Homo sapiens: one gene and its partner. The protein of the gene in region 2 interacts with the protein of the main gene of each other region in a biochemical or structural test. Each region holds a gene or a part of one and is shown on either strand. Other genes may lie near its edges.

Evidence for each region. The genes of interacting proteins can lie anywhere in the genome.
Region 1: the proteins of ZBTB16 (region 2) and SIN3A form a complex in vitro, tested with the Homo sapiens proteins (3 studies listed by BioGRID).

What each region holds. Positions count from the first base shown.
Region 1 is NC_000015.10:75,410,030-75,413,781, forward strand, and holds part of SIN3A (paired amphipathic helix protein Sin3a), read right to left. Parts: intron 3,017-3,752; coding exon 2,734-3,016; intron 1,715-2,733; coding exon 1,463-1,714; intron 258-1,462; coding exon 105-257; intron 1-104. UniProt on the Homo sapiens protein: Acts as a transcriptional repressor. Corepressor for REST. Interacts with MXI1 to repress MYC responsive genes and antagonize MYC oncogenic activities. Also interacts with MXD1-MAX heterodimers to repress transcription by tethering SIN3A to DNA.
Region 2 is NC_000011.10:114,244,699-114,248,450, reverse strand, and holds part of ZBTB16 (zinc finger and BTB domain-containing protein 16), read right to left. Parts: intron 1,254-3,752; coding exon 1,086-1,253; intron 1-1,085. UniProt on the Homo sapiens protein: Acts as a transcriptional repressor. Transcriptional repression may be mediated through recruitment of histone deacetylases to target promoters. May play a role in myeloid maturation and in the development and/or maintenance of other differentiated tissues.

The DNA.
Region 1 (3,752 bases), on a different chromosome or scaffold from region 2:
AAGCAAACAAATATCATCTAGGAAAAGTCCCCTTCTGAGCACAGTTTTCCAACTCATCTAAGATAATAATAGTAAATAGTGTAATTCTTATTAAAAAAACATACCACGGAGCTGTTGGCATCTGGTAGGAATTGTCCAAACTCTGACAACAAATCTTCCTGGTTTTTAAAGAGACGAGCAACCTGGGCATACACCTCCTGCTCTGTCAATGCTGGAGTGTAGTTTCCTCCAGCTTCCTTGGCATTTCTCTGCTCTTTCTGAGGAATTGCAAATGAAAAGAGATCATTTGGGCTACTGTTTTGAGTCACTCATCTTTGCACGCTTTCTGGAATCACTGTTATCTATTTAGGCTGCATGTAAGAAGAAAGTCTATGTTCTTAGCACCCGTTCTGACCACAGACTTTCAAGTTGAGAAAAAAAAAAAGTTGAAGATGGTGGATGACAATTCCTTTCAAAACTAGGGTAGTAAATATTTTTGAGACGGAGTTTCACTCTTGTTGCTCAGGCTGGAGTGCACTTGTCTCGGCCTCCCAAAGTACTGGGATTACAGGCGTGAGACACCATGCCCGGCCTAGGGCAATAAATATTAATGCCCAGGGGACCACTACCAACTGACAAAACCTTAGAAATTTCTCCTCCTCCTACTGTACATTAACTAGACTATATAAATCACCATCTAACTGTCCCAGATAAAACTGAGTTTCATTTCATGGGACAGTGACTAACAATCCTGACTGAGGCCGGGCACGGTGGCTCATGCCTGCAATCCCAGCACTTTGGGAGGCCATGGCGGGTGGATCACCTGAGACCAGCCTGGCCAACATGTTGAAACCCCGTCTCTACTAAAAATACAAGAAATCACTTGAACCCGGGAGGTAGAGGCTGCAGTGAGCCGACACTGCACTATTGCACTCCAGCCTAGGCAAAAAGAGCAAAACTCTGTCTCAAAAAAAAAAAAAAAAATCCTGACTGAATGTTGCAGGGCAATCAAGTCAGGCAAATAAAACTGGCTTTATAGCATGGGGGCGGTGGCTCACGCCTGCAATCCCAGCACTTTGGGAGGCCAAGGTGGGCAGATCACAAGGTCAGGAGTTCGAGACCAGCCTAGCCAACATAGTGAAATCCCATTTCTACTAACAATACAAAAAATTAGCTGGGCGTGGTGGGCGGAGCCTGTAATCCCAGCTACTAGGGAGGCTAAGGCAGGAGTATCACTTGAGCCCGGGAGGCGGAGACTGCAGTGAGCTGAGATCGTGCCACTACACTCCAGCCTGGGTGACAGTGCAAGACTCCGTCTCGAAAAACAAACAAACAAACAAACTGGCTTTAAAAACATGCATGATAGTTTCTAACTGGTTAATTTCCAGTATGAATTAATGGACACAATAATGGTTACTTGTTATTGGACTAGATGCCCTAAGAGGGTGACCTGGTTAAGACAGGCTGAATGGGCACTCCTTACCTGATATGTGTGCAAAATCTCCAGGAATGCTTTGTAGATGTCTGGTTGGCCCTGAAATCTGTTCTTGATCTTATTAACATAGTTGATGGCATGATTAAACTCCACAGGTTGATTGTTCTGCAAGGATGGGGCCGTTCCCAACGAGATTGTCACTGGTGTGTGAGGCTGGACCGGCGGAGAACGTGGGGATGCATACGGTGGAAGTGGGGGAGTCTGCTGACTGGCCGGAGTATGTGCTTGCAGTTGGGAGGGCTAGAAAGAAAAGAAATCTTTATTCTCTTCAGATGCATAGATGAGTTGATACAAGGAAAGTTCAAACTAAAGAGAAACAAGGTGTCAACGTATATCCTTTATTTACTCACTCAGGCCAGGTCATTTTAGTCCAACACAAATCATACTGGGCAGCAGTGGGAGTTGTAGGCGGTTCAAACATGCTGATACAAATATTTCAGTCTCACATTTTCTAAATAAAACCTTAAAACTGGAGCCATCTCCAATTACAGGGAAGAATTTTTCATATGCAATGTTTTAGCTTAGTAGCTCAACAAGTACACATAGAAAAAATCTCATTCTACATAGCCTTTTGATGTCAACAACAAGACAACTGTTGCAGTAGCTCCACATAAAAAAGTCTTCTACGCCAACTCTGTCCTGTAGAACTGAGATGATGGAAATGTCCTTTATTTGCACTGTCTTATACATAGCCACCAGCCACATGAGGTTACTGAGCACTTGAAAGCTAGTGCAAATGAAAAACTGAATTTAATTTAAATAGTCCTATGTGGCTAGTGGCTACTGTGTCAGACAGTGTGGTTCTAGACCAAGAACACCCCATCTTCATCACCATCACTATCACTATTCATTAGATCTTCTACTTAGCTTGATATAATCTAGTTAGTGAAATAACTTTCATAAAATAACCATGTGGGCAGCAGCACAATTTGACCAGGATAAGACGATGGTTTCTATCTGTGCTGTCAACTACTACTACACAAAGTCACCACCTGTTGGGATGTTCATGGTTTTATAAGCAGAAACTGTAAAAAGAAAGACCTTGAAAGTTGTTGCTGTGTTGATTTAAATAGATACCTAAGTAAGTGATGTGTAAATGTGAACCATGTCATAGTGAAGTTTTCATACAGCATTTTTCTATGACGAAATCTTTGTAACTTTGTTTCTCAGTATCTAAGTCTTATATAAAGGGGAAACATCAAAGGAAGGTGCTCTCTAGGGATGCATTCATATTGATGCAATATTTTCCAAGTGCTCACCTTGCTGACTTTGGCAGGTGGGGGCTGAGGAGCTGGCTGGGCAGGAGCTGGGGCTGACTGGGCTGAAGGCTGGGAAGGATGTTGGGGTGGTGGTTGAGGCTGTGGCTGGATGCCATGGGTGGGAATCTGATGAACCTGGCCAGGAGTTGTCACATTCACCATGTCATTGGTTTGCACCTCAATTTTGTAGCCAGGGGGCAAGAAGGTGTTGAATCCCATTATCAGATCGGGGTGGCCTTTGAATAGCTGGGACACACGACTAATCACTCCTGGGGTGTCGATGCTGATAAAAAACAAAAAGAAAAGTGATAAACTGTAAGCTTAACAAACACCCTGTTAAGAAAAAATTTCATGTTTTTTTTTCTTTTGAGACGGAGTCTCACTCTGTTGCCCAGGCTGGACTGCAATGGTGCAATCTTGGGGTCTTGGCTCACTGCAACCTCCACCTCCCGAGTTCAAGTGATTCTCCTGCCTCAGCCTCCCAAGTAGCTGGGATTACAGGCATGCGCCACCATACCCGGCTAATTTTTGTATTTTTAGGACAGGTGGGGTTTCACCATGTTGGCCAGGCTGGTCTCGAACTCCTGACCTCAGGTGATCCGCCCACCTTGGCCTCCCAAAGTGCTGGGATTACAGGCATGAGCCACCTCACTCAAAATTTCACTTTCTACTAGGTTTTCTCTAAACAGGAAAACAGATCATCTACGCATTTTAAAATTAACACACGAACTCTGAAATTCCAAAGCCATTTAGTTTTAGACTCAAAGATACTTGGCCACAATTTGTTTTTTTTTTTTTTGAGACAGAGTCTCATTCTGTTGCCCAGGCTGGAGTGCAGTAGCACAATCTCGGCACACTGCAGCCTCCGCCTCCTGGGTTCAAGCAATTCTCCTGCCTCAGCCTCCCAAGTAGCTGGGATTACAGGCACCCGCCACCATGCCCGGCTAATTTTTGGAATGGTCAAAATTTTTAACAGAATATATGTTCATTGTAATAATTCTACCAAGCAGATACTCAGA
Region 2 (3,752 bases):
AAAGCCCTGGTTTGTAGCATCTGCTGATTGCTATGATGTGAATACTCCTACAGTGGCCAATTTTAAGCAACTAAGGTGGTGTCACTGAACTTGAAGTTGTGAAGAAATGTGAAAAATTAGCTTTCACAAGCAAGCTCCAGGACTTCACTGCCCCCAACTTGGGAAACTGTGGAAGACCCTTCACTTGTTTTGTCTTTTGACCTCAGGGAAAACAGTGGCCCACATTTCTTTTTCCAATACAAAAAATAATGTGGATGGGCACGGTGGCTCACGCCTGTAATCCCAGCACTTTGGAGGCCGAGGCGGGTGAATCACTTGAGGTCAGGAGTTCGAGACCAGCCTGACCAACATGGCAAAACCCTGTCTCTACTAAAAAAAATACAAAATTAGCTGGGCGTGGTGGCACACACCTGTAATCCCAGGTAATTGGGAGGCTGAGGCAGGAGAATCGCTTGAACCCAGGAGGCAGAGATTGCAGTGAACTGAGATCGTGCCACTGCACTCCGGCCTGGCCAATAAGAGCGAAACTCCGTCTAAAAAAAAAAAATGTGAAGGCACTCTGAAGTGGTAAAACATCATATGCATATAGGGATTATTAAATATATCTGCTCTTCTAATCTCAGAACCAAACACAATCTAACTTTACAACTTCCCAACCTTCATAACAACCTAATTCAATGTATCCTAATTCTTACTCTAACCCTTGAGTAACATGAAATTACCCTAACCTTCACTTTCAGCTAATTGGACCAACTTACCCCTAATTCAGGACTCATATACAGACATCATTTTGCATGTCACCTCTGAACTACTGGTATAGCTGCCTGGAGGGCTGATGGGGGCTCACTGGAAAGTGTGCTGGGATTGATTAGTAATGTCTGCCTTGGCCTTGACTGATGGCCCTCAGGCCACCTTGACTGGGGTGTGGTGGTCCTCAGGCCACCATACCAGCTCTTAATAGAACCTCTTCTACTCTTTGATTCAGCCTGGGATCATCCTCACTTAGGCTTCTCTAGGAGACTATCTGCTTCCCACCTCCGCCCAGGTCCCAGAGCCAGCTCAGGCCCCTCCCTGGCCTTCGGTACCTGTGTGCACCCTATAGTGCGTCTCCAGCTGATGCTTGAGGCTGAACTTCTTGCCACAGCCATTGCACTCGTAGGGTTTCTCACCCGTGTGGATGCGTTTGTGGCTCTTGAGTGTGCTCTCATCCCGGAAGCAGCTGCCACAGAACTCACACTCGTAGGGGTGGTCGCCTGTGGAGACAAGGGGCTGGATCAGGCCTTTGCCTCTCCCTGCCCCCTCTTCAGGGGACAGTAGGGCACATTCTGTGCATGAGAAGGATGCGACGGCCTGTATTCACCACCTCCAAAGACAACTTAAGGATCCACGGCCACACCTCCATTGAATAAACAAGCAATACCTGTCTTCACACATGACCATACTTTACTGTGGCCCCATGATCATCTGTGGGGCAAGGGCCAGTCCTGGGAAAGAGAGCCCATTTGGTTCAGGGATGGACAGCAGTCCCCAGAAAGCAAGCCCCCTTGTGGATACATGAGACCTCACCATCTTGCTTCTCAGATGACCTCTTCTCCCCTTCCTTTAGGTTAAGGGTGAAAGTCACTCCAGCCTGACTCCCCAACCTTCAAAGAAATCTCTCCAATTTGAGGAACTTCACATTGTCCCCCAAACACCTTCTACAGTCCCCAATTTCCTTCCTCCACAGTCTTACATAGCTGTTTCCTCTGCTCGATTTCTTCTTTTCTCCCTGGTGAACTCCTAATCATCCTTCAAAGCCCAGCTCATATGATACCCCCGCGTGGACGCTTCCCTTTAGTTCCCCAGGCAGAATGAATCACACTTTCTTCTGTGTCCCCAAAGAGAAGAAATGCCCAGAATTTTGTTCTGTTATTAGTGTGGTATCATTTTTATGCCACTTTCGCATTAAAATGGGCTACATTTCCTGAGCACTCAGATGTGTGATGTGATCGCATCAGATGATCATGGCAACAAACTTAAAGAAAGATATTAGTCTCATTTTACAGTTGAGAAAAAAATGAGATGCTTCCACATCATCCCTAAGGTGAAACGGCAAGTAAGGAGCTGAGTTGGGATTCAGGTTTGGGTCTGGCTCTAGAGTCAGGGTACCATATACTTGTCAGCTTGCTGACACACTATGCTGTATCTACTGGCTTGCCCACCATACCTCCAGCATGGAAGCACCACCAGGATAAGAAGCAAGCCTCACCCATCCTTGTAGCCTCAGTGTATCGCACAGGGAGGATCCAGAACAGACCCAGGAAATGGTGGGTCTATGAAACTTGGAGAGAACTGCCTTTTCTTTTTTGAGGATCCCACTCTTAAATCTCCAGAGCATGAGAGGTTGGGGTGTGGAGAATAACCATCTTGCCTTTCATATCCAAAGTGGGGGGCTTGGGGGATGAAAGGTGAGGACTCCAGCTACTTATTTATTACAGGAGTGAAGGCGCAGACAATAAAGATAGATTGATCACCCCAGACTTTGTTCATGAATATTTAAATATCGCTGATTCGTCTTGTCACTGTAATTACAATTTCTCTGGGCTGCATCTCCAACAACCACAGTTTATGGTAAAGAATGGCCCACTGTATTTCACTTGTCCCTCTGCAGATGTGCGGGGCTGCCAACCGTGTAATGTCCTCTGCATTTCATACATTTTCTTCAGCTGCTGAAGGTTTAAGTCATCCACAATGACCTACGTTTTTGCATTATCCCCATGTCAAACTGCGCTCGTGCCTGGGCATAAATTGTCCTTCTCGTTATAGACTCGCATGCCTGTGCCTTCACTTCCTTTTTAAAATGATATTTTACTCTCTCCTGTCTCTCCCCTCCTCGGGCCACTAACCAAAGCTCCCCCCTCCCAAAGTTAGGCCCCTGTACCCACATAAATTCTCATCTGTTCTGATGGCTCTGAGGGGTTTTTAGGGCTCTGAGGGGAGCGGATGCTGGGGTCTGATCAGTGACTTTCTCATGGGTGGAAGATTTGCAAGAAGCACCCATGCCATGAGAGGGGCACTTCCATCAGGGAATCAGATGAGAGAAGCTCAAAGAGTGGCATCGTGCCTTGACACCAGTTCACCCCAATCTATGGGGTGTTGCACTGGCTCAGAGGCTCGGCCAGCGAGTCCCTCACCTGCAGATCTGGGGATGGGCCAAGGCCCAGGGTTCTCAGTTGGGGAAATTGCTACCTGCCCATCCTCACTGCCAGAGCCATGCGGACTGCCTGGCCCCCAGCCCCATCAAACTCAAGGGAGTGGAGGCCTGTGCAGACCCTGGTACTAATTAGTTGTGTGTCTAACACAGTAAGGGCCAGTCTGTGTGTGCACCCGAACCCACTCTCTCCGTGTGTCTGCACTCACAGCCCTGTCTGGTCTGACATCCAACTCCCCCTCCTTACTGAATCGGCAACGATTACGACTTTAATCAAAGATTCAGTATCCTCATTAAGGTATAAATAAATAAATAAAGCCAAGGCCACGTGAGACTTCAGCTGGAGCCGGTAATTAAAACGTACATCGGCAGCCACCCAGCCGGGTGGGGGTGAAGGCGGCGGTGGGGGGGAAGGGGGCGGCTGCCTGTGCCTTTCCCCTCCAGAGGGGTCCCTAACAATTTAAAAAACAAAGGGTTAAGACAGAGGAGTTTGTTTGATCCGATTTTTAGGAATTTAATTATGAAGTGGAGCACATGTTAAATGAGTTTAAATAGGAAATTC